Linked DNA regions of Homo sapiens. The protein of the gene in region 4 purifies or fractionates together with the protein of the main gene of each other region. This does not show direct contact. Each region holds a gene or a part of one and is shown on either strand. Other genes may lie near its edges.

What was found.
Region 1: the proteins of PEX14 (region 4) and PEX2 purify together in Homo sapiens (co-purification; one study listed by BioGRID and IntAct). This does not show direct contact.
Region 2: the proteins of PEX14 (region 4) and ABCD3 purify together in Homo sapiens (co-purification; one study listed by BioGRID and IntAct). This does not show direct contact.
Region 3: the proteins of PEX14 (region 4) and TCP11L1 purify together in Homo sapiens (pull-down; one large-scale study listed by IntAct). This does not show direct contact.
Region 5: the proteins of PEX14 (region 4) and PEX10 purify together in Homo sapiens (co-purification; one study listed by BioGRID and IntAct). This does not show direct contact.
Region 6: the proteins of PEX14 (region 4) and EVA1C purify together in Homo sapiens (co-immunoprecipitation; one large-scale study listed by IntAct). This does not show direct contact.
Region 7: the proteins of PEX14 (region 4) and PEX3 purify together in Homo sapiens (co-purification; one study listed by BioGRID and IntAct). This does not show direct contact.

What each region holds. Positions count from the first base shown.
Region 1 is NC_000008.11:76,993,579-76,997,078, reverse strand, and holds part of PEX2 (peroxisome biogenesis factor 2), read left to right. Parts: intron 1-3,500. UniProt on the Homo sapiens protein: E3 ubiquitin-protein ligase component of a retrotranslocation channel required for peroxisome organization by mediating export of the PEX5 receptor from peroxisomes to the cytosol, thereby promoting PEX5 recycling.
Region 2 is NC_000001.11:94,424,889-94,428,388, forward strand, and holds part of ABCD3 (ATP-binding cassette sub-family D member 3), read left to right. Parts: intron 1-3,213; exon of another isoform or gene 3,214-3,500. UniProt on the Homo sapiens protein: Broad substrate specificity ATP-dependent transporter of the ATP-binding cassette (ABC) family that catalyzes the transport of long-chain fatty acids (LCFA)-CoA, dicarboxylic acids-CoA, long-branched-chain fatty acids-CoA and bile acids from the cytosol to the peroxisome lumen for beta-oxydation.
Region 3 is NC_000011.10:33,046,072-33,049,571, forward strand, and holds part of TCP11L1 (T-complex protein 11-like protein 1), read left to right. Parts: intron 1-3,500.
Region 4 is NC_000001.11:10,477,950-10,481,449, forward strand, and holds part of PEX14 (peroxisomal membrane protein PEX14), read left to right. Parts: intron 1-3,500. UniProt on the Homo sapiens protein: Component of the PEX13-PEX14 docking complex, a translocon channel that specifically mediates the import of peroxisomal cargo proteins bound to PEX5 receptor.
Region 5 is NC_000001.11:2,406,520-2,409,564, reverse strand, and holds part of PEX10 (peroxisome biogenesis factor 10), read left to right. Parts: intron 1-706; coding exon 707-1,113; intron 1,114-2,609; coding exon of another isoform or gene 2,610-2,669; coding exon 2,670-2,845; intron 2,846-2,945; coding exon 2,946-3,045.
Region 6 is NC_000021.9:32,419,206-32,422,705, forward strand, and holds part of EVA1C (protein eva-1 homolog C isoform 1 precursor), read left to right. Parts: intron 1-617; exon of another isoform or gene 618-3,500. UniProt on the Homo sapiens protein: Binds heparin.
Region 7 is NC_000006.12:143,485,305-143,488,804, reverse strand, and holds part of PEX3 (peroxisomal biogenesis factor 3), read right to left. Parts: intron 1-3,500. UniProt on the Homo sapiens protein: Involved in peroxisome biosynthesis and integrity. Assembles membrane vesicles before the matrix proteins are translocated. As a docking factor for PEX19, is necessary for the import of peroxisomal membrane proteins in the peroxisomes.

The DNA.
Region 1 (3,500 bases), on a different chromosome or scaffold from region 4:
CTGACAGCTTGACTGGCAGTCTGGTCTTTTGAATGATCTTGAAGGGGAAAAAGATTTCTTTTGAGTTCTGTGGGATTAAATTTGATCCAAGCTTAGCAAATGTCCATTCTACTAAGTGTATTTTGTATGTTCTACAGTTTTTCTGATGTTTACCATAAATTTACTTATTACCAGCTTGACTTTAGATGGGTTGTTAATCTTCTCAAGCCTTAATTTTTATCTTCTTAAAATGGAGATGATAATACTGTACTTACTGTGTTGTGAGGATTAAATGAAATAAAGAATGTAAAGAAAAGTTGTAGTGCCTTGTACATGATATGTATCACATGGTAGTTCCTCCTATTCCATTGCTAATGGCTCTTTGTTCCTTTGGGGATATTTCCGTGTTCTCTTGTACCATAAAATGTGCAATTAAATGTTTGTTCCAGTTATTTTCAAGTCATTTAGAATTCTTAAGCAATTAGATTCTAAAGCCCATTTTTAAATTATTTATAGAGTATTTAAACATCTAGCTGCTCATACATTTCATGTGTGTCCTGTTCATACTCGCACTAGTGTTTTTCCCATAGTTTGTGCCTATACTCTTAGTACTTGGCCTCTTTAAGGTAGCCCCATCTGTGTGACCTGTGGTACCATCCTAAAGTGTTTATGTTTAACTTTTGGGTCCATTACCGCGTTGTCAGTATAGGACGCTGGTTTAGAGCTGGTTCTGCCCCCTCTGGTCATGGGATTTCACACAAGTCATCTAATCTCTTTGCACCTCAATTTCCTTGTTTTAGAACAGAAGTAATAACAGAAGCTCTTTATTAGTATTATAAGGATTAAATGATTTAATATTTAAATTTGTACTTGGTAATTAGCTATAGTAGTCACTTGTTAGCACTCAGTAACTGGTAGGTGTTAAGTGTTTTCTCTGGTTGTAAACTAACAAGTTCATTGGGATTGTCTTCCTTAGTGGTTTACTGTTACTCTCCATGAATACTGTCTCTGTCTCCTGTGTCCTGCTCTGATTTCTCTATTTTCCTCATGTCCTGTATTGCTCTTTTGCAATTGGAAATAGCTGTTCATTTTTTTCCCTTTCCCTTGCAAGATTTCCTAAAGCAGTTTCTATAAGGATTCTAGATAGGTAGGTAAACTTACAGTTGCTTTTTTTTGTTTCTTTTTTTAGCCAATGAAGAGTATAGTGTAATAAAATGACTTGTCTAGAGTCACACAATCTGTTAGTGAACCTGGGCTAGAATACAGAGCTAATCAGAGGCAGTTTAACTCTGCTTTCCCCAATACTCGCTCCAACATCTGTTCTTTATTTTCACAATAAGCATTCTCAGACTCAGAAGTATCAGGTTTCTGAAAGAAAAAAATATGAGTGCCATGCTGTTATCTTAAAAATATACTTATAAAGCTAGGCCCAAGTATTGGAAATTCTTTTCTAAGGTTTAAAAAAAGTATTTTGTGCTAGTTTTAGATACTTGAATAACTATATTGTGTATGAGATAAGTAAGGCACTCAGTTGATTGTGTAAGACTCAATATAATCTTGAGTTGTGTTGAGTTTCCTCTTCTCCCTAAATGCAAAAAAAAAAAGATATTTTCCCCTCTTCTAGGGCAGGTTACTTACCATTGTCCATATTTTTGAGAAATATGTGCAACTTTGAAGTTTATCTTTCAGATACATTTTAGAAATGTTTTGTCATGTATCCACTACCACTTCAAAAAGAAAAATCCTATTTGGATTTTGATGAGGCAATGTTCATTGAAGTTAAAAGTAATTTAGAGGTCTGTTGGACATAACACAGTTTTAAAATTTCACATATCTTGGCTATACCCAAATGAGCACAACTGGGATTTACAACATCAGGTGTCTATAAACTATTAAAACTTAGTTTATGTATGGTGAAAGAGAGGAACGAGAAAGTAGTGACAAGGCACTTAGCAAGTCTGTGACAGAAGCGGGATTTGAACTTAAGAGTTGTTAGGCCTGTTCACAGTGCCAGAGGTCACAGTGTTCTAATGGGCTTCAGCCATAGCCTTTTTTCTTTTGCCCATATTTGAAACGTGTTCTGGGAATCAGTGTCCAGTTAAATCCCTCTTTGATGCACGTCCCATTTATTAGTATTGATTTCAATACATTGGACAGTAAATCTATCTGACTACACAAAGGAAATAAAATAGTAGGTTATAGGTTCAAAACTTAAGATGTCTAGTCATAGAATTTTATTCATATAACCTCATAATATGAAATGCTAGTTTAACATTTTCAGAAAGAGAAAACAATGAACGTGGTCTCATCCACTTTGATTGCCAGAACATTTAAGATGGTGTGGCAGTGACATTTTCATTCTAAAACTTAGTTTATTATTGTGGAGATGGAAAAGAATAGCCTGGCAGGGGGTGCATGAGTGGGTATGACACAGTAGAGATTACTTGAGAATCACGTTTCTGCTGACAAAGTTTACAGGACTGTAAATTTAAATGCAGAATTTTGTAGACAGTATGCATTGACAAATATGCCTAATGGTAATACCTCTAATACTGAGAGTCTTGGAACAGGTCAATAATAATGTGTATATTGATAGCAGCGATGTAGGAGATGTTACATGGTATTATAGCTAAAATCCATGTTATCCCCTTAATCATAATTACGTTAATATTGACAGGCCCTTGACAATACCCACATTATTATTGATAGATTTCTGTCAATAACATGTTTTTAAAGAAAATATATTCATTCATAATTTGTACTATACTCAATAAAACTATAAAATACATCCTGAAACATTCCTTCTTCCTCAGTGAGATACAGTCATTTGTTTAGTTTTTGGAATGTGATATAGATGGCAAAGTTTTTATTTTGGGATATGAAAAACATAAAAGGAAAGCATGAGTTATTTAAGGGATAAGGTTATATATTGCTGCTCTTAGTAAATAATTTTTAGTTGTCTTTTTCTGTGAAAGAAAAGCAGTGTGACATGTTTAGTGATAAAATGTCAGCAGGAGACCCTTTTAATAGTTTTTAGTACTAGATCATTTTGTCTTAAACATATTTATGTGACAAGTTAATCACACGAACCCTAGTAGATGCTATACTTTTTATCTGGTCTTGATTTTGCCTTAAGCATCTTTTTCACATATCCTTAACATGGTAGAATCCTTCACTAAATGCTAAGATTATTTACTGCCAATTATAATTTTAGTTACATATTTTTATATATCTCTTTGCATAGCCAATAAATATCTCTCTCCCCTCCCCTGGGTTAGCATTTTGGAATCTTAAAGTTAGTATAGGTCGAGAATTGCAGGAGTGGGTGGCTGGTAGGATTGTGTATGAAAAGGTAGAATAGGAAAAATCTATTAGAATTAAATTTAATGGTGGTTCAATTCAAAGCAATTCTTTTTACAAAAAGCAGCTTGTAATTTTTAAAAATATTCAAGTTTGAGCTTACATTTATAAAACTAAATACTAATTTACAATGACCAATAATATAGAAATTGTTAAAGCTT
Region 2 (3,500 bases), about 84 Mb from region 4:
ATTTTATTCACAGTTATAGCCCCAGTGGCTAGAACTGTGGCTGGAATATATAGTAGACACTCATATTTGTTTGACTCTACAACAACAAATGAGATTCTCATTTTTTGGGGGCTGTGGTTACTATTGTTTTAAATAACACATTCTTTTTGCTACAAATGTAAATGTTGTCTTTAGTATATTTATGAGCTCTTTAGGAGCTGGACCACTTATACCCCCTATATGTACAGGTAAAGCAAGTCTCAGAAACTTAAAAAAATGCTATCATCACCTGCTTTTGACAGTTTAATAGAGTGTAAACATTAAAGACAATTTAAGAAAATTAAAAATCATCCATAATGTTATAACCATAATACAAATATTGTTTTATTTTTGTTTCCTTTTATTCTGTATTTATGTGCATTTTTACAGTTATAACGTACATGTTTTGTTATTTTCATTTAAAGCATACCTCTTTCCTATATTTCCCTGTACATGACCTTCATAACTATACTTTTAAAGAAATACGTAAATATTCCTCTGTGTGACAATATCTTAGTTTATTTTCCTGTTAGCTATTGAGGATCTAGACTGTCTCTGGAATTTTTATGGATTATACTGGTGTATTTTTGCAAGTGAACATTTTCATCTCTGCTGAATAACTTCCTTGGAATAAATTGCCAGAAGTAGGATTAATGAATGGAGGCTTATGAATTTCCTTAGTGTTTGTGGAAACTGTGGGCATTCTTAAACTACACAGGTTGATGTATTACTTTTCATGAGTTGTGCCAATTTGCAGTACTATGAATGAATGCTGACTTAATTACCTACTCATCATTAGGGGATATTTAAATTTTTTTCTACTTTACGGATGCAAAATAGTCTTGAAAGATTATTTTAATTTGCACGTATTTTATAATTTGCAAAAATGAACATTTTTTTGTGCAGCTACTTGATCTTTATTATGGAGGTAGTTTGGCATAGTGTTAAAGAATAGTCTTTAGAGTCAGATGTAGGTTCAATTTTTCCTTTGGCCGTTTGTCAGATCTGTGACCTTGGTCAATTTACTTAACCTCTTTGAACCTCAGTAGAACAGGGATAGTAGTATTTACTCACTCACTCAGCAGTTAAGTGAGGATTAATGGAGAAAACGTTTTAACCCAGTGCTCAGTAAATAAAAGGTAGCTCTCATTTCTATGCTTGCTAAAAGAAAACTAAAAGGACAACAAAACATACCTTTGTTAGCTTCTTAAAAACTCCCGAGCCTTCCTAATTTCCTCAGATACACCCATGAAAATCTCCCAAAGGAAGCCTTTTTCAATTGATAGAATCATTTACTTTCAGAGTTGGAAAGTATCTTAAGTTAGTTTTATGTGACATGGTTTTAGGTTTCTGTATTTTTTCAGTTGCTGCTTCCTGAATATGACAGTCTTTATTTCTCCACCTTTTAAAGAGGCATTGCTAAATGGAATTCGGCATTCAAAGTGTCTTCTCACTGGCACACTAGCAGAGAACTGTGACCTACCTTGTCCTAAGCTTTCATTAAAGATCCTAAGATGTTAAGCTTTCATTAAAATAGCATGAAGTTACATTCATTTTTATGACTCTCAAATATTTTTCACTTGTATTTAGCTTTCACAATGGTTTTCCCTTCTTTCCCCCTCCTCACCTTGATGTGTTTGATTTTTTTTTTTTTGAGATGGAGTCCTGCTCTGTCACCCAGGCTGGAGTGCAGTGGTGCAATTTTGGCTTACCGCAACCTCCGACTCCCGGGTTCAAGTGATTATCTTGCCTCACCCTCCCGAGTAGCTGGGATTACAGGCACCCGCCACCACACCCAGCTAATTTTTTTGTATTTTTAGGAGAAATGGGGTTTCGCCATGTTGGCCAGGCTGGTCTTGAACTCCTGACCTCAGGTGATCTGCCTACCTCGGCCTCCCAAAGTGCTGGGATTACAGGTGAGAGCTACCGCGCCCAGCCTGAATTTTTTTTTTTTTTTTTTTTTTTAAACCTGGGTGCAGGTCTTTATACTTATTTTTGGTTGGGCACATTACTTCTTCCCTCTGAAACTTTTTGATCTGCACAATTAATTACTATTCCTTCTGTATGTTTTCCTAACAAACTTAAAAAACTGATTGGACAGGACTGAGTATAGAACAGTATGTTTACACCACTATAATCTTTCTATTAATTGACACCCTTTGGTTATTGTATTGGCTCTCATTTTTAACTTACCAGCATCTTTTCACACATTTCCTTCTGGTAGTAGACCTGGCATTCTGACAGTATCCATAACCTGATGCATACTGGGCCAGAGTCCTCTTTTGGGATGTTTCTGCTGGAGCTGGTGTGGGGAAGGGTCTTTCTTTCCTGTCACAGAGGTGTGAAGGTAGACCCTAGAACTGTATTAGCCTTGGTCTCTTACATGGAAAGGGCAGAAACCCTGATTTTGTTTATCATCAAATGCTTTGTAGCATAGTGAACAAAATTTACAAAAATTTCGTGGTCCCTTTCAAAGAAAAGAATGACCTTAGTCTGACATAGTTTTTTGGTGAATTCATATTTTCTCCTAAAAGTTACCACTTCCTTCTAAGTACCCATGCCATACTGCCCATTTAGATAAGTAAGTTGTAACTTTTTTCCTAGGATCAACATCACACTCATCCATGACCTGATGAATATCACCTTCTAATCTGTTTCAATGTAATATGAACTTGAATTATGAAGGAGAAAGATAGGATCTTCCTACATTTTCTTTGGAATTTTATCTGCTAAATTAAGTAAAATTTTACGGGAAATGGTATTTCACTATGTTGACCAGGCTAGTCTCGAATTTCTGGTCTCCAAGCGATCGCCTGCCTTGTTCTCCCAAAAGTATCAGGATTACAGGCATGAGCCACTGTGCTCGACCCTATTAGTTCTTTTGGAAAGATTTTTATGTAACTGTTGTTTAAAATGGCATTTATATTATTTCTACATAAAATTAGGCATCAGGCCCTTGCTTAAAAACATGGCTTTCATCATAACATTCTTTTTAAGAGTAAGTCACTTTTGTTTTAGGCATCTCTGTCAAGAATATAGCCTTCTATAAAGTTAAGGATAAAATTCTTTGGATAACTGCTATTTATGTAATACAGTGGAACTATTATAAATATTAAGATGGTTTGAAGCCTTCTTAGGTAAAATAGGAGTATGCTAAAAGGTGTTTTGTTTTTTTTTTTATTTTTTATTTTTTTGCCACAAGATTGAGAAATGGAAAAGTGTTTTTTTAAACACACCTTTCTTATCAGTTTGCTAGATTAGCAGGCCCGAGTGAATGCAGTTAAGTTAATAAAGTATAAAATTGAAAATAAAGCTCATCAAAGCATAATCAGCTAGTTTGATATCTGTAAATAGATGTAGCCGTCTCACCACTATAATGGTACTATAATAATTGACATAAAAGTGGATTATATGATTTACTCTATGCTTAAATTATTTGGACTTTAATATTTTATTAATACATTTATTGGCATTAAAAAGCA
Region 3 (3,500 bases), on a different chromosome or scaffold from region 4:
TTCCATTCAAGCCACGAAGGGTTTTATGCCCTGGGCTTAGATTATGGTGCTGCAGGGCAGCCTTCTGCCCTTTAGCACAGAGCTTGGTGTTCCCAAGGCCATGAGGGGTTTTAGACCCTGGACCCTGGACATGTTCCAAGACTCTTTTACATTAAGTGAGACATGCAAGCCCTGCTTTAGCTTCTCCCAACAGTTGGTTGATTGGTTTTAATTTTTTTAAACAATTTTAACTTTTATAGGTTCAGCCATTCTTTGGTTGATGGCTTCGCCTTTGGCATCTTGTCAGCCTGATGGCATGATTCCAAATTAATGTCAAACCAGTACTAAGCTACATTATCTGAAATTGTGTGTAGTTATGCCCTTAAGGCAAGAATACTTATCCTGGGACCTATGATCAAGATTTAGGGGATCTAGTAATAACCAAAAAAGTATATCAACATTTGTTTGTATATGCATGTTTTTAGGAATAAGGTCGTGGAAGCTTTCATTAAGTTCTCTTAGTAGTCTGTACCAAAATAAGGTTTAAAATCAATGCCCTAAGGTATTCCTTTTGGCTGCCTTCCTATTTCTCCTGTAGTGCTAGGTAGGTACAGGGCTATAAACCCAAAAGATAAAGCTAAGACCTCATTATCTGGGCATCAGGTAAGGAAGCATTATTGAACACATAGAGCATAAATAAGGATTTACAAAATATGGAATTAACAGTTTACAGACATTTCCCCCAAACTCTGTAAATTTGTAGCTACTGAGTTTAAAGTAACTCTAAAATCATATTTGGAATTCTACAAATTAAAACGTAAGTAGCAAAAAGAGAACATTTATTGTTTTAAATTATAACACAGAGTAATACTTTAAGAGTGGAGTTGCTAGGCCAGGCGCATTGGCTCATGCCTATAAGCACTTTGGGAGGCTGAGGCAGGTGAATCACCTGAGGTGAGGTCAGGAGTTCGAGACCAACCTGGCCAACATGGTGAAACACTGTTTCTACTAAAAATACAAAAATTAGCCGGGAGTGGTGGTGTGTGCCTGTAATTGGGAGGCTGAGGCAAGAGAATCACTTGAACCTGGGAAGCAGAGGTTGCAGTGAACCGAGATTGTGCCATTGCACTCCAGCCTAGGGGACAAGAGCGAAACTTCATCTCAAGAAAAAAAAAAAAAGAGTAGAATTCTGATGTAACCGATGCAGAATATTGAAAAAGGAAAAATGGCTGGCTTGTAAAAAATTTATTGGTACTGATTTGAGGTGGTGATTTGATTGTAAAAGATTATCTGTTCTTTAAACAGAGTAAGGATCAGTCAACTGTAACTTAACAATGTTTTCTCTAAAATCTTCTACTACTTATACTTTAATGCTCTTCTCACAAAATACCCTCTGTTCTAACGTTTAATCACCTAGTTGACCAGTAAAAGATGCTATATTCAGATGACAAACATCAATTGTTATTCCAGTTAATATCTCCCACTTAGGACCTTTGTTTATTGGATCAGGTCCTTGTGAATTTAATTAGTAGATCCCAGTCATCTTTAGATGAATAGATGACACGAGAACTTACATTTCTAAAGCTCATGACTAGACTTTGAATTATGGTGTCTCTGTATTCAGTCAGTCAAATATTTATTGAGTGCATACTGTATGTCAGGGATCCAGCAGTGAACCAGGCACATATTGTCTCTGTCCTCATGGAGCTTGCAGGCTAGCGACCAGGAAGACAAATTAACAAGCAGTTTCCAACAACATAATAAGTACTATGGGTAATCTGTACCCTGGTTTTACTGTGCTCATTCTATAGTAGCTGTTTGGGTGACAGTTGCAATCTTGCCCTCCATAAATGTCCGTCCACTTATGTAACTAACAGCATCTTTTCAGAGTGTATAGGCATCTCAGGACACCTTAGTAAAGATAGAGAGTACAACCATTCTAAATTAGAACTTCATTTTATTTTGGAATCTGTCTGCCAGCCTCTCTAAAGTCATGTTTAACCTAATATGGTTTTCAGTTTCTCTAACAGGGCATCAGTGCGCAAATGCTGTAACAAAATAACAAAATTTAGCAACAACTTTAGCTTTGTATCACGTAAGATAAACTCCAGGGTAAGTTACATGTATCTTTACATTTTTTTTTTTTAAGACCGGATCACTCTATGTTGCCCAGGCTGGCCTTGAACTCCTGGGCTCAAGTGATTCACCCACCTCAACCTCCCTAGTAGCTGAGACTACAAGTGTGCACCACCATGTCTGAGTTGACCTTACCATTTTTCATGGCTCTTATTACAACCCAGGTTCTCTTAACAAATTGAGGTGAAGACGTGTTGTCCACCAAATTGCATCTTTATGCAATTTTATGCAATCCTTACCAAGTTTTCATTTATGAAATTGGTAAATTTGAGAACTCTCACAAAACAAAATCCCCACAACCCTATAATTTGTATGCAGTGAATAATTCCTCTGTATGTACATCGGTAACATGTCCTGATCATATCTTAGAACTGTAGCTTTTATCTATCATGATCAGATACCTGTCATTGATAAGTTTGATTTTAAGTAGTCTCTTAACTTGGACAGTTCCTGAAAATTTTCTTCTTCCTAATGGTGAGGTTCTTAGTACTTGGTGCAAGCTGTTTTTTTCCAAGTATGCCCAAAACACTGAGAATGCACTTGTTTAAAATTCGGAGGATTCTTATATTTCATAGCACACCCTTAAGTCTCTTCTTTTTGCATATGGAGAAACACTGACCCTGCAAGATTTAAGTGACTTGTTCAAGGCCGTACTCAACAGAGTCCAGAGGAAGTGAAATTCCTTCCTGATTTGCTCCAGCCACTGTGTTTCATGACTAGGCAGCATAGTAACGGTGCCTATTATTACCCAGATGACTAAAATTATTGGGAAATAACAAATCCGGCCAGGCGCGGTGGCTCATGCCTATAATCCCAGCACTTTGGGAGGCCAAGGCAGGTGGATCATGAGGTCAAGAGATCAAGACCATCCTGGCCAACATGGTGAAACCCTGTCTCTACTAAAAATACATAAATTAGCTGGGTGTGGTGGCACACGCCTGTAGTCCCAGCTACTTGGGAGGCTGAGGCAGGAGAATCACTTGAACCCGGGAGGCGGAGGTTGCAGTGAGCCGAGATCGCGCCACTGCACTCCAGCCTCGTGACAGAGCAAGACTCCGTCTCAAAAAAAAAAAAAAAAAAATTCACCCAGAGGACTTGATGTGATGTATTTCTGTTGTTTTCATAAATTTCAGATGGTAAGACATTGATTATTTTTGAAGGGGTGGCCTGCCCCTCCACAACCTGTGGGTGTTTCTCGTCATGTGGGACGAGAGACTGAGAAAAGAAATAAGACACAGAGACAAAGTATAGAGAAAGAAAAGTGGGCCCAGGGGACCTGCACCCTGTCTCTGAGTTCCCTCAGTATTTATTGATCATTATCTCTACCATCTTGGAGAGGGGGTTGTGGCAGGACAATAGTGTAATAGTGGGGAGAGGGTCAGCAG
Region 4 (3,500 bases):
GCGATCTCGGCTTACTGCAACCTCCGCCTCCCAGGTTCAAGTGATTCTCCTGCCTCAGCCTCCCAAGTAGCTGGGGCTACAGGTATGCACCACCAGGCCTGGCTAATTTTTTTTTTTAAGTAGAAATGGGGTTTCACCATATTGGACAAGCTGGTCTCAAACTCCTGACCTCAGGTAACCTGCCCACCTCGGCCTCCCAAAGAGCTTGGTATTACAGGCGTGAGCCACTGCACCTGGCCTTAAATGAGTTATTTATGTAAAAATGCCAGAACAGTGCCTGAAACAATGTGTTGTCTATTATTATTATTATTCAATTTAATAAGCTCTGAGTTTTCACTCACAAATGGATCTAAACCTTTCTTCAAGTTCTATTACGACATCTTTTGGGGTATGATTTTTCATGTGTTGACTACTTGTCTAGTAAAGTTCTTTTATTCAGAAGTAATTCCTTAAAATTTCAAGGAATGCCCTGAATGCTAGTGTTTATTCTAGCTGTCCTTCATGACTTTTGCATTTCAGGAACATACTTACTTTTTCATAATGGTATAGTCTTTTTAGTCTATCCTCAAGACGACTTGCTGGAATTTCATTTATTGCTTCCTTTGTTCTGTGTTCCCCACATTGCTCTGTTTTATGTGGTTGATCTATTGATTGAGACAGGGTCTCACTCTGTCACCAGAGTGCGGTGGTGTGATCATGGCTCACTGCATCCTTGCCCGCCCAGGCTCAGGCAATCCTTTCGTCTCAGCCTCCTGAGTAACCGGGACTACAGGTGTGCACCACCATGCCTGGCTAATGTATTTTTTTTTTTTTTGAGACAGAGTCTCGCTCTGTCGCCCAGGCTGGAGTGCAGTGGTGCGATCTCAACTCACTGCAAGCTCCGCCTCTCGGGTTCGAACCATTCTCCTGCCTCAGCCTCCAGAGTAGCTGGGACTACAGGCACCTGCCACCACGCCCGGCTATTTTTTTTTTATTTCATTTTTAGTAGAGACGATGTTTCACCGTATTAGCCAGGATGGTCTCGATCTCCTGACCTCGTGATCCGCCCACCTCGGCCTCCCAAAGTGCTGGGATTACAGGTGTGAGCCACTGTGCCTGGCCTGGCTAATGTATTTTTAAAACAATTTTTGTAGTGGTGAGTTCCTGGCTGGGCGTGATGGCTCATACCTGTAATCTTAGCACTTTGGGAGGCTGAGTTGGGAGGATCGCTTGAGGCCAGGAGTTTGAGACCAGCCTTTGCAATATAGGGAGACCTCGTTCCTACTGAAAATTAAAAAATTAGCCAGGCATGGTAGTGCTTGCCTGTGGTTCCAGCTACTTTGGAGGCTGAGGTGAGAGCATCACTTGGGCCTGGGAGGTTGAGGCTGCAGTGAGCGGTGATTGTGCCATTGCCCTCCAGCCTGGGTGAGAGAGCAATACCCTGTTTGGGGACGGGGGAAGAGACAGAGAGAGAGAAAGTGCTGAGATTATAAGCATGAGCCACCACGCCCAGCCAGCATGGCTGATCTCTCATTGAAGTCCTTTCTAGTGTGTACACGTTGGAGCCCGTAGGAATGAGAAACGTTATCTCTATTTCCCAACTTTCCTACTAGCTTTTCTTCCTTCGCTGAACAGCAGAGGCATGGTTCAATCTGATTACTTCACAGTTACTGAGTATCGAGTATTATTGCAGAAGGTAGATTTCCTATCTGTGGAGGTTCACTGGGTACAGTAAATTTTGCATTGAGAGGCTACAGAAGCAGGCAGGGAGAAGAGCAGAGTGAAAGAGTGGAAGAGCATGGCTTCGCATCCTGGCAGGTTTTGGTGGAACTTCATCACTCACAACTATTGGACTTATCACTCCACCTTTCTGAGTATGTTTTCTCCTCTGTAAAACGAGAGCAATAATAGTTACCCTTAAAGCTGGGTGTGGTGGTGCATGTCTGTAGTTCCAGCTACTCAGGAGACTGAGGCTGGAGGATTGCTTGAGCCCAGGAGTTGGAGTCTGTAGTGCACGATGATCACATATGTGAATAAACCCCTGTACTCCAGCCTGGGCAACAGAGTGCAACCCTATCACTTAAAAAATAAATAAATAAAATAAAAAATAATTACCCTTTTAGTGTTGACTGAAATCACAGATGTGAAGAGCACCTGCTGCATAGTAAGTGCTCAGAGTTAGTTTTCTTCTCCCAGTCTTTACATGTAGTTTTGAGAGTCTGTTGAACTCTTGAATAACAGCAGGTCAGACAAGGTATTTGCCCTCTCAATGTTTTTTTTTTTTGTTTTGTTTTGTTTTTGAGATGGAGTCTCCCTCTGTTGCCCAGGCTGGAGTACAGTGGCTCAATCTCGGCTCACTGCAACCTCAGCCTCCCAGGTTCAAGCGGTTCTCCTGCTTCACCTGCCTCAGCCTCCTGAGTAGCTGAGACTACAGGTGTGTGCCACTACGCCTGGCTAACTTTTTTTTTTTTTTTTTTTTTTTTGAGACGGAGTCTTGCTCTGTCTCCCGATCTGGAGTACAGTGGCACAATCTCGGCTCACTGCAACCTCTGCCTCCTGGGTTCAAGCGATTCTCCTGTCTCAGCCTCCTGAGTAGCTGGGACTACAGGTGCCCGCCACCATGCCCAGCTAATTTTTTTGTATTTTTAGTAGAGATGGGGTTTTGCCATGTTGGCCAGGCTAGTCTTGAATGCTTGACCTCAGGTGATCCACCTGCCTCGGCCTCCCACAGTGTTGGGATTACAGGTGTGAGCCTGGCACCTGGCCTCAACTTTTTATTTTGAAAAATTTCTCACGTATAGAAAAGTTGAAAGGATAATACTGAGAACTTCTGTAAAATTCCCATAAAAACTTAACCAAGATGCACTGTTCACATTTTGCTGAATTTGCTTTATGTCAGTCTCTCTCTCTCTTTCTCTCTCTCTCTCTCTCTATATATATATTTTTTTTTTTGGAAGGATTTGTGGTAAGTTACAGACATCAAGGATATTTCATCCTAGAATATTTCACCTTATCTCTCATAAGAGTAAGGTTATTCCCCTGTATAACCACAATATCATTATCACACAAGAAATTTAAGTGTTGATAAATAGTATTATTTAAAACAGAATCTGCACTCAAATTTTCACACTTAAAAAAAATCAGAATCTAGTGAAGAAACAGAGATTGCATTGATTTGTCTCTTTAGTCTTTTTTTTTTTTCCTTTCCTTCCTTTTTTTTTTTGTTTGAGACAGAGTCTTGCTCTGTTGCCCAGGCTGGAGTGCAGTGGTGCAATCTTGGCTCACTACAACCTCCGCTTCCTGGGTTCAAGCAATTCTCCTGTCTCAGCTTCCCAAGTAGCTGGAATTACAGGTGCCCGCCACCATGCCTGGCTAATTTTTTTGTATTTTTAATAGAGACAGGGTTTTGCCATGTTGGCCGGGATGGTCTCGAACCCCTGACCTCAAGTGATCCACCCACCTCGGCCTCCCACAGTGCTGGGAGCCACCGCGTCCAGCCTTAAACTTTGTTTGTTTGTTTG
Region 5 (3,045 bases), 8.1 Mb from region 4:
GCTCAGGGAGACTACAGAGGCTGTGACAGTCCCCCACAGGATGGTGGTGGTACAGAGCAGGGGCGGCAGCGAGGGGGTGGAACACACAGGGAAGGTGCATGCAGGGTGCCCCTTGGGCTTGACCTCAGGAACCGGAGGCCTGGCGTTGCCATCCACAGAGATGGAAACGGGGAGCAGGCTTTTCTGGGTGGGGGCGCTGAAAGCTGTCTCGGCAGGGGTGGAATTGGGGTGCTCATCTGAGCATACATGGCGATGTCAGGTAGGTGGCGGACCTGCATGGCTGGCACTCACAAGTAAGGTCCAGGCTGGGCATAAATCGGGTGGTGCCAGCTGTGTGGTTGGTGGAGAGCCATGGGACTGGATCCGAGTGCTTGGGCTGGGGGAGGTGGCGGGGACAGCTAGGGAGAAAGGGGAAAGAGCAGAGACTCTTGGGGAGAAGCCAAGAGAGGGAGGGACACTGGCCAGCCAAGGCCCTGGGAGCCAAGGGCAGCCATTGGCCGGGCCTGTCATGTGCTGCCTGAGCTCACAGTGGGCTTAGCGACAGAAGGTCATGTTGGCCTCAGCCAGCACGGGGTGACAGTGGGCTCAAGGGCGACAAGATGGGGCTGTTGACAGGAGCCAGCAGAGGGTCGGCTGGCAGGGGCGCCGGGAGCCTGTCCCCGCGGCAGCAGTCTCAGGGTCCACATACCCATCCTCTTCCTCGCAGGCTACCAGACCCTGGGGGAGGAGTACGTCAGCATCATCCAGGTGGACCCATCGCGGATACATGTGCCCTCCTCGCTGCGCCGTGGCGTGCTGGTGACACTGCATGCCGTCCTGCCCTACCTGCTGGACAAGGCCCTGCTCCCCCTGGAGCAGGAGCTGCAGGCTGACCCCGACAGTGGGCGACCCTTGCAGGGGAGCCTGGGGCCAGGTGGGCGTGGCTGCTCAGGGGCGCGGCGCTGGATGCGTCACCACACGGCCACCCTGACTGAGCAGCAGAGGAGGGCGCTGCTGCGGGCGGTCTTCGTCCTCAGACAGGGCCTCGCCTGCCTCCAGCGGCTACATGTTGCCTGGTTTTACATCCACGGTGTCTTCTACCACCTGGCCAAGAGGCTCACGGGGATCACGTACGTAAGTAGCAGGCGCTGAGGGCACAGCTGCTTAGGCCGTCCTTGTCACCCCCACTGGACTTGGGTGCATGCACAGAGCTGGCCCTCCAGGCCTCTCAGCCAACAGGGTTCTACATCCAGCATCTGTGTCAAGGCAGGAACCCAAATCCTCTGCTTGGAAAAAAAGCAGATTTTGTTTAATTACACTTGGCTGAAAGATCCAAGGAAGTCCAGACCCTAAGTGTAGAATGAACTCCTGCTGCAGCCCCTCATGGACACCGGGCCCTGCGCTTAGCTCTTTACTGACCGGGGGGCCCCGGGTCACGCCTCACCACAGATCCCTGAACCTGGGCCCGTGACTGCCTATGTCACTGCTGTGGGGAACAAACAGCTTCTCCCAGACAGTGTGGGAGCATGGACTGCAGCCCCGGCCCCAGCCCCTCACCCCTCGCCCCTGCCTGGCCCAGCAGTCTGCCCCATCAGACGGCCGTTCCCACCTTCTCCCCTCCACAGCCGTTGGCACCTCTGCCTATCCTGACCCCCAGCTGATGCCCCTGCTTCCAGATTCAGCAACGAAGCCTCCCCCGTGGTCCCACCACCATGTCCACCTGCCACAGCGTTAGTCCCTGGCCCACCAGAGCCACTACTGCATGAGCTCCTTCCAGAACAGCCCTCTGAGGAACCCCCTTCCTTTTGTCCCTAGAGCTGCACTGGTCCCCTCAGCCCCTACTTGCCAGGCAACCCCGCCTCCACACACACCCTAAACAGGAGGCCACCGTGACCTCGTCGCAGAGCCAATGGTCAGGTCTTCGTCCTCAGCGTACCCAGCCTCACTTGCGTATTTGATGTGGTTTCTTGCCCCGTCCATGTTGGTGAGGGATTTGATGAGCTGCTGTGACAGGGGCATGGAAGTGGGGCTCAAACCAGATGGGAGGCTCCCTCTCTCCTAGGACAGCCAGGAAGTGGCTGGACACCCAGGGCCCATGCTGGCGGTGTGACCTGCCACCTCTGTATGTGGTTCCCGGCCCTGGGCCGAGGCTGTCTGGCTGTCTCCATTTCCCAGCCAGTGGAAAGTGACACGGGAAGCCGAGGGCAGCCAGCTGTCCTTCAGTGGCACGGTCAGAAGCTACCTGTGTCACCAGCAGGAGGGTGGCAGCAGTGTCCCTGGGGCCACGTGCCTTGTTACACTGGGGCTTCGGTCCCTGTAGCAGGGTAGCTGGTGGGCAGCGTCTGCAGCCCCACATTTCCGCTCCCCGCCTCCTTTTCTGAGAGGTGGTCCCTGGACATCCCCACATCCTCACCTGCTCTGCCAGCCTCATAGCTAAGACTCTTTCTGCACTGGTAATGCCAAGGCTGGTCTGGAGCTCAGGCCTCTCCGTCATGCTAGGCTACGAAGCAGGCACCTCAGACTCCCTGAACCTGCCCCCTGGCTTGATCGTTTCTGCCGGGCACTCCCCATGCCAGTGAGAGGCCTGGTTCTAACGTGCTCTGTGCCAACTGAACGTGTGACCCTCCCAGCAGGCGCTGAGGCCAGATCCCCTCAGGGTCCTGATGAGTGTGGCGCCATCTGCCTTACAGCTCCGTGTCCGCAGCCTGCCCGGAGAGGACCTGAGGGCCCGTGTTAGCTACAGGCTGCTGGGGGTCATCTCACTGCTGCACCTGGTGCTGTCCATGGGGCTGCAGCTGTACGGTTTCAGGCAGCGGCAGCGAGCCAGGAAGGAGTGGAGGCTGCACCGCGGCCTGTCTCACCGCAGGTGCGTGCGGGGGCCACACATGGGGGCTGGGGGTGTCCTGGGCACTTCACAAGGACCTGTAAGGTGCACCCACCTTGACGCTCTGCCCCACCTTCCCCAGGGCCTCCTTGGAGGAGAGAGCCGTTTCCAGAAACCCCCTGTGCACCCTGTGCCTGGAGGAGCGCAGGCACCCAACAGCCACGCCCTGCGGCCACCTGTTC
Region 6 (3,500 bases), on a different chromosome or scaffold from region 4:
TTTGGAGGTCACTGATCTTCACAGCCATCCTGTTGGCTTAATATCTTTAAAATTCTTAGTGAGGCACCACTTTGAGGGTAATGTACTATGAGAGAACAATTGCTCCCTCGTTACCCACCCCTATTGCCTGACTTGCGTACTGCTCTCCCCAGCTCCACAGCTGCTAATAAAATTTAGAAGCAGGATTTGAACCCAGTACCTATTGGGTTTTAAATATCCATACTGATGGCCGGGCACTGTGGCTCACGCCTGTAATCCCAACACTTTGGGAGGCCGAGGCAGGTGAATCATTTGAGGTCAGGAGTTTGAGACCAGCCTGGCCAAAATGGTGAAACCCCATCTGTACTAAAAATACAAAAATTAGCTGGGCATAGTGGCATGCTCCTGTAATCCCAGCTACTCGGGAGACTGAGGCAGGAGAATCACTTGAACCCAGGAGGTGAAGGTTGCAGTGAGCCGAAATCGTGCTTCTGCACTTCAGCCTGGGTGACAGAGCGAGTTCCTGTAAAAACAAAAACAAACAAAAAACAAAAACAAACAAACAAACAAAAAAACATACTGTCACTGAAGCTGAGCAATGGACCAAGAAGGTGGGAGCGGGGGTGGGGGCTGGGGGGAGGTCTGAAGTTTTATGATACTTTGTCACTATTTTAATGAGGCTGGTATATTTGTATCCTTCTGTAAGGAAATGGTTTCTCATAATAACATAAATCCTAAATCCTACAGTCATGAAGATTTTAGTACTGGAAAAAGAATCTTGGGTTGGAAAGGCAGCTGACCAAGTGATTCTGGTGTCTTCTGAGTTTCCCCTTGCCCCTTGGGGTATCTCGTTCTGCCACCCCTTTAGTTGGCTCCCATGTGTGCACCACCGGCTCAGCAGAGGCAGTAACTTCTTTACTTGGTTTCCCTCAGTATGAGTAAAAAAGTTGGTGAGTTAAAAATACTTTTAGGGTTTTAAAAAATTTTTACAGCCTGGCCCATAGGGTGAAACCTGTCTCTACTTAAAATACAAAAATTAGCCAGGCATGGTGGTGGGCGCCTGTAATCCCAGCCACTCGGGAGGCTGAGGCAGGAGAATTGCTTGAGCCTGGGAAGCGGAGGTTGCAGTGAGCCAAGATCATGCCACCACACTCCAGCCTGGGCAATAGAGCGAGACCCTGTCTCAAGAAAAAAGAAAAAAAATTATCTTTTACTTTTGAGATAGGGTCTTGCTCTGTCACCCAGGCTGGAATACAGTGGTGCAATCACGGCTCACTGCAGCCTCAACCTCTGGGGCTCAAGCCATCCTCCCACCTCAGCACTCCCTAGTAGTTGGGACTATAGTCACATGCCAGCAGGCCTAGCTAATTTTTTTTGGCATTTTTTTTTTGTAGAGACAGGGTCTCACTATGTTGCCCAGGCTGGTCTCAAACTCCTGGACTCAAGAGAGCCACCCGCCCTGGCCTCCCAAAGTGCTGGGATTACAGGAGTGAGCCACTGTGCCTGGCCCTAAAAATAATTTATTAAGCACATAAAGCACTCTATGCCAGACACTGTTCAAAGAACTTCATGTTAACTCATTTAATCCTCCCAGTTGTAGCTATAAAGGAGATGCTAGTATAAAAAGTTCAAGAAACTGAGGCAAAGAGCAATTTAGTAACTTTTGGGGATTTGAATCCAGGTAGCCTTTCTAATACCAAGGGAATAAAACAAAATAAATTACATGCAGTTTAAAGCAGTGGCACTTCTGTCATGTTTATCTCTTCATTTCCTAGAGCCAAATCTTTCCCAGGACTTACATAAGTAATGTCCATTCCTTGTCCTGTTTAAAGATAGTACCATCTAGCCTCAAAGAACTGATTATAGAATTGGGTCTGTAATTTGTTTCTGGAAATTGGTGTTCTGAAACTATTTCCCCAACAAAACACCTAGAAATGCTGAATAAAATATAAGAAAAATCTTTTAATGTATAAATGAGTGGTGAGGAAACAAAAATGAAGAGAGAATAGAGAACTAGGGATGATAGCTGGTGCTAACCCTATGGCTACGTTGGAGTTGCTTGATGGTCTTGACAACGAAGATTTAACAGGTGCCTGAGCGCAGGCGATAAGGAGTGAGACCACTGTATAGTGAGGAATTAGAATAAAGACCTCTATATAAAGCCAGGACTTTGAAAACCTAAGCCTTCATTAAAAGGTGGATGTAAAACAAATCAGCCTTCTTGTAAAGAAAGATGACAAGGAAACTTGTCATAGCCTAGGTTCAGGATTGGAGAAAAAAATAATGTCTCTTGAGATGGTGTAATCAAAATTCTGCCTTTTGGAGAGTCTGGGTTTTGAATTCATATTACCTTTACTGGGAAACCCAAGTTGAGAAACTAATAAAGTTGTCCCATGATACCTGGCAAAAACAAACACACAGATACTGCCTTCATGGGAATATCATCAATATAGGCCCATCTATAGATTCCTATAGCTAAAATGCTGCTGATTATGATCACACAATTCAAAATTACATTATATGAGCAGTAGTCAGCAGCAATGACACGGTTCTTAAGTAATAAAAGAGAGAATCTAGGTCTGGGCATGGTGGCTCATGCCTGTAATCCCAGCACTTTGGGAGGCCGACGTGGGTGGATCACCTGAGGTCAGGAGTTCAAGACCAGCCTGGCCAACATGGCGAAGCCCTGTCTCTACTAAAAAATACAAAAATTAGCTGGGTGTGGTGGCGGGTGCCTGTAATCCCAGCTAGTTGGAAGGCTGCGACATGAGAATCACTGGAACCTGGGAGGTGGAGGTTGCAGTGAGCTGAGACTGTGCCACTGCACTCCAGCCTGGGCAACAGAGCAAGACCCTGTCTCAAAAAAAAAAAAAAAAAAAGAGGGAATCTAAAAAGAAATTTAAGAAGGAATCTAAAACATGAGAAAGGAACAAAAGGCTATCGAGAAAAAACAGGTGTATTTGTAAAAGAATCAAAGATATCTACTAACATGAAAAATATATTCATTGACATGAAAAGCCTGATGGGTAGGTTGAAGAGCAGATTAGGTATAGCTGAAGAGAGAAACAGTGAGGTGGAAAAAAAAGCTGGAGAAATTATCCGGAATGAAGCAAAACAGGTAAACATATGGAAAACATGGAAGAAAAGTCATAAGACATGGAGGATGGAATGATGGTTGAATATACATCTGATCAGTATTCCAGAAAAAGAAAGTAGGGAAAAGGAGAGAGAGGCAACACTCAAAGTGATGGTGTCCTAGGATTAATTTTTAAGGATTGATGAAAGATTCAGAGTTAAGCATTCCAAGGAAGATAAATAAAATAAATTTATACCTGAATGTGTCATACTGAAACTGTAAAATACTAAAGACAAAGTGACAGTCTTAAAAGCAATCAGATAGTAAAGGAAATGTTATCTATAAAGTCTTTGCTACAAAAACAGTGGGAGCCATAGACAGCGAAATAATATTTTCCAGGTTCTGAGAAACAAACAAACAAAAAACAACCATCAGTCCTGAATTA
Region 7 (3,500 bases), on a different chromosome or scaffold from region 4:
GACATAACACGGTTAAGGGTGTATTACTTTCTAGAAGATCTAACATACGGTATGAATATGTGTAGTAAGTGCATATTTTACATATACACACATACATGAACCACACATATACACTATAGTGTAAGGGTTATTAACACCCCAAGGGATTTGCGAATGTGAAGATAAGAAAAAAATTACACCTTCATTTTCTTTAACTTCTAACCAAAATCTGGTATCTCTTTCAATTATGAATGTAGGCAACAAACTGTGATAATATTAGCAGGTTGTATGACTTTGTCTTCAATAGAAATCATAGGCATTTTCATGTCATATGACAGTTGTGGAAGTTATCAGAACTCTCATTATATCTTGGTATTTAATGCATGAATAAAGAAGCAATACCGCTATATCATACACTTAATTTTAAAAGAAATTTTGAAAACTATATATGATTGGTTTCCTTTATAATATTATGTATTTTATTGTATGCACTTATAAATATTGTTCTGAGAAGGGGTCCATAGGCTTCACCAGTCTGTGAAAGGGTCCATGATAGAAAAGGTTGACAGCCTCTGAGAGTGTCAAAGAAATGGGAAGTAAACCTGTCCCTAGTGATCTCTGTTTCTTAAGTATCGGAAAATCCAAGTGAGGTTTAGACATGTCCTAATCTCAATCAATTCATGGTTAAATTATCTCATCAGAGAATTTGATGTTATTTAGTTTCAAGTATTCAGTCTAGGTGTTCAATGAAACATAGGTTTAGATCAATGTTTCTCAAACCAGAATTTACAGACATACTTTCAGGGGCCCAAGAATTTGAGGGGAAATTTTGTGTTTTGATTTCTATGAAAATGTAAAGAAAACTCAAACACGCTCTTGATTATTGAGAAGATAAAATATATAACCTACTATTGTTCCTGATTTTAGGGCATTTGTTTATATTTATGTTCTTATTGGCTTTAAGTAACATTACTTTAACTGTCTTGTGCTAATGAGAGAAGAACAGAGGCAGAAAATCTTTCAAATGAAGACCAAATCATGTAAAACACATGATACAAATGAAGCTTTCAGAATAGTTACAGTAGATAAAAAAAAAAATACTAGCAAGTCAGCTTCAGAAAATGCAGGCTGAATGCTCAACAGCATGAACAGTAGCAGACAGGTCCACATTCACTTTGGCACAACAAATTATTAATAGTAGACGTCAGCCATATTATAGAACAATCTTTTTTTGTAATTTAGATTCTACTTGACAATAAAAGTGCTTTGGTTTTGAGTTACGAAAAAGCTCTAATCTTAAGGATCTTATTGAGTTTTTAATTTATACACTAAAAATGATTTAAACACTGGAGGACTGTGGTATATGTGTGTACATATGTATGTGAGGTGTATGGACAAATCTGAGAAATACTACCATTGTAGTGCAAAAGCAGCCATAAACAACACATAAACCAATGGGCATGCTGTCACCCAATAAAACTTACAAAAGCTGGTGCTTGGCTGGATTTGGCTCATAGGTCATAGCTAACTTATATCAGCTTTATAATAAAGACTTTAATCTGTTCAAATACTGTATCCTGATGCAGCTTCTAGGATGTTTCAGTAGTCTGAGATAAAAATTATGTATCATAGGGTTGGTTCACACTATAAAAGCTCTTTCCTTATGTTATCTGAAAGCAATCTGAAATAATTTATCTCCTGCTTATGTTATTTGAAAGCTATTTGAAAATAATTTGAAAAACCACCTTTCTCGATTGTTTTCTGATTCTCCCATTTCCTACCTTTACCAACTACCATCCTAATATCTTCTACCAAAGGGGTCAGCAAAGTATGGCCTGCAGGCCAAATCCACTGCCGCCTGTTTTTGTATATAAAGTTTTGTTGAAACAGCCATACTCTTTTGTTCATGTACGTTTCTGACTGCTTTCACACTGCCAGAGCAGAGTTGAATAGTTTCTGTAGAGAATGTATGTTGCATTAAGCCTAAAGTATGTACTATCTGGCCCTGTACAGTTTGCCAAACCCCTGTTCTACAGCATTCCCACCATAGGCTCTCCTACACACCATTGTAGTTGAAGTAGTAGCAGTAATTCGAAAGGACTAATTTTATGTAAATTAGCATTCTAATCAAGGCAAAGGCTTTATAAAAAGATAAGTGGAAATAGTAAAGCATATGACAATTTATTAAGAAGACCACTTGGTATTTTAACTCATAGAAATTATAGTTTAAAAAATTAAACTATAATTGTAATAGCCTTGTCAATCAATGGTCTAGTATATACATTTAATATACATCCAGTTACAGTAAAAAACTTTACTAAACATTAGTATCAATGGCGTTTTTACCATATTGAAACATTTGTTTTTATTATCAATTATATCGATTTTAATTAAAGTGTAGTGCATAAAATTATTTAAGCATTAAGGCTGATGATGCTTTATGCTTGGTTGTAATTTCCACTCATCTGTCAAAATGAACAGCCTACTGGCCAAGCCAGGGACTTCTACAGAAGAGGACAAAGGTAAAGGTAAGGTTTAAATGCCCCAAGTTATGACCTTTTTCTCACATTGATATAGATGTGAAGCTTAACATTCAGTAAAATGAGATCAGTCTTATTCACTATTTCTTCTGCAATATGAGTGCCAAGCTCTTAGGGGTGAGAAAGAGGACAGAAGACTGAAGAGTCCAGTGTGGGAAAATGTGCATGTGAAGGACAGGCTGATGACACCACAGTGAAAGGAGGAAACGAACTCTTAGTCTCAGTGCTCTCCACGTTCCCAAGAGTAAAAAGTCTACAGAGAGGATACACTAAATTGTCTGAGACAAGTTACACTAAGAAGATGTCAGCTTTATGCTTAGGCCATAGGGTCTCTTCTCATTGTACATTATTGAAGCAGTTTGCAACTGGCATTGCAAACAATTTTTTAACTTATAACACAGTTTCCAAGTTTGCACATGACTCAGAAATTCAAAGTTATTTTGTTTATAATATTTGTCTTACTCAATGAATTACTGAATTACTCAATGAATTACTGAATTACTCCATGCATTCCAAATGGAAATGAAGAAATAAGATGGAGTTATAGGTAGTCTGATAAAACATTTAAATGACCCACTGTTTATGTGGCTTTTAGTGAGCATATTATTGATGCACTATTAACTGTTACATTTTATTAATCACTAAAATGCTTTACTTCTCCACAAATTTTTTTAGTTTTCCTCAAAATGTGTAGAACAGGATCCTTGATCTGCCCCAAGGATCAATCTTCTTACTAGCACAGCTTAATGCAAACATTCATGCTATATAAATTCAACTGACCACTATAATACACCTGGACTAAAATGTAGTCCCACAGTGTTGGACTACAACACGGAGAAAGGTACTCCAAACTTACACATTTGCTATGGTCCGTTATTACTCTCATGGGACACTCTACCATACTCTACATGTAGTTCCAAGTTCTGTGATTTTTTGAAAAAACCTCTCAGCAGAGAATGTAACTTTATGTTAGACAAACAT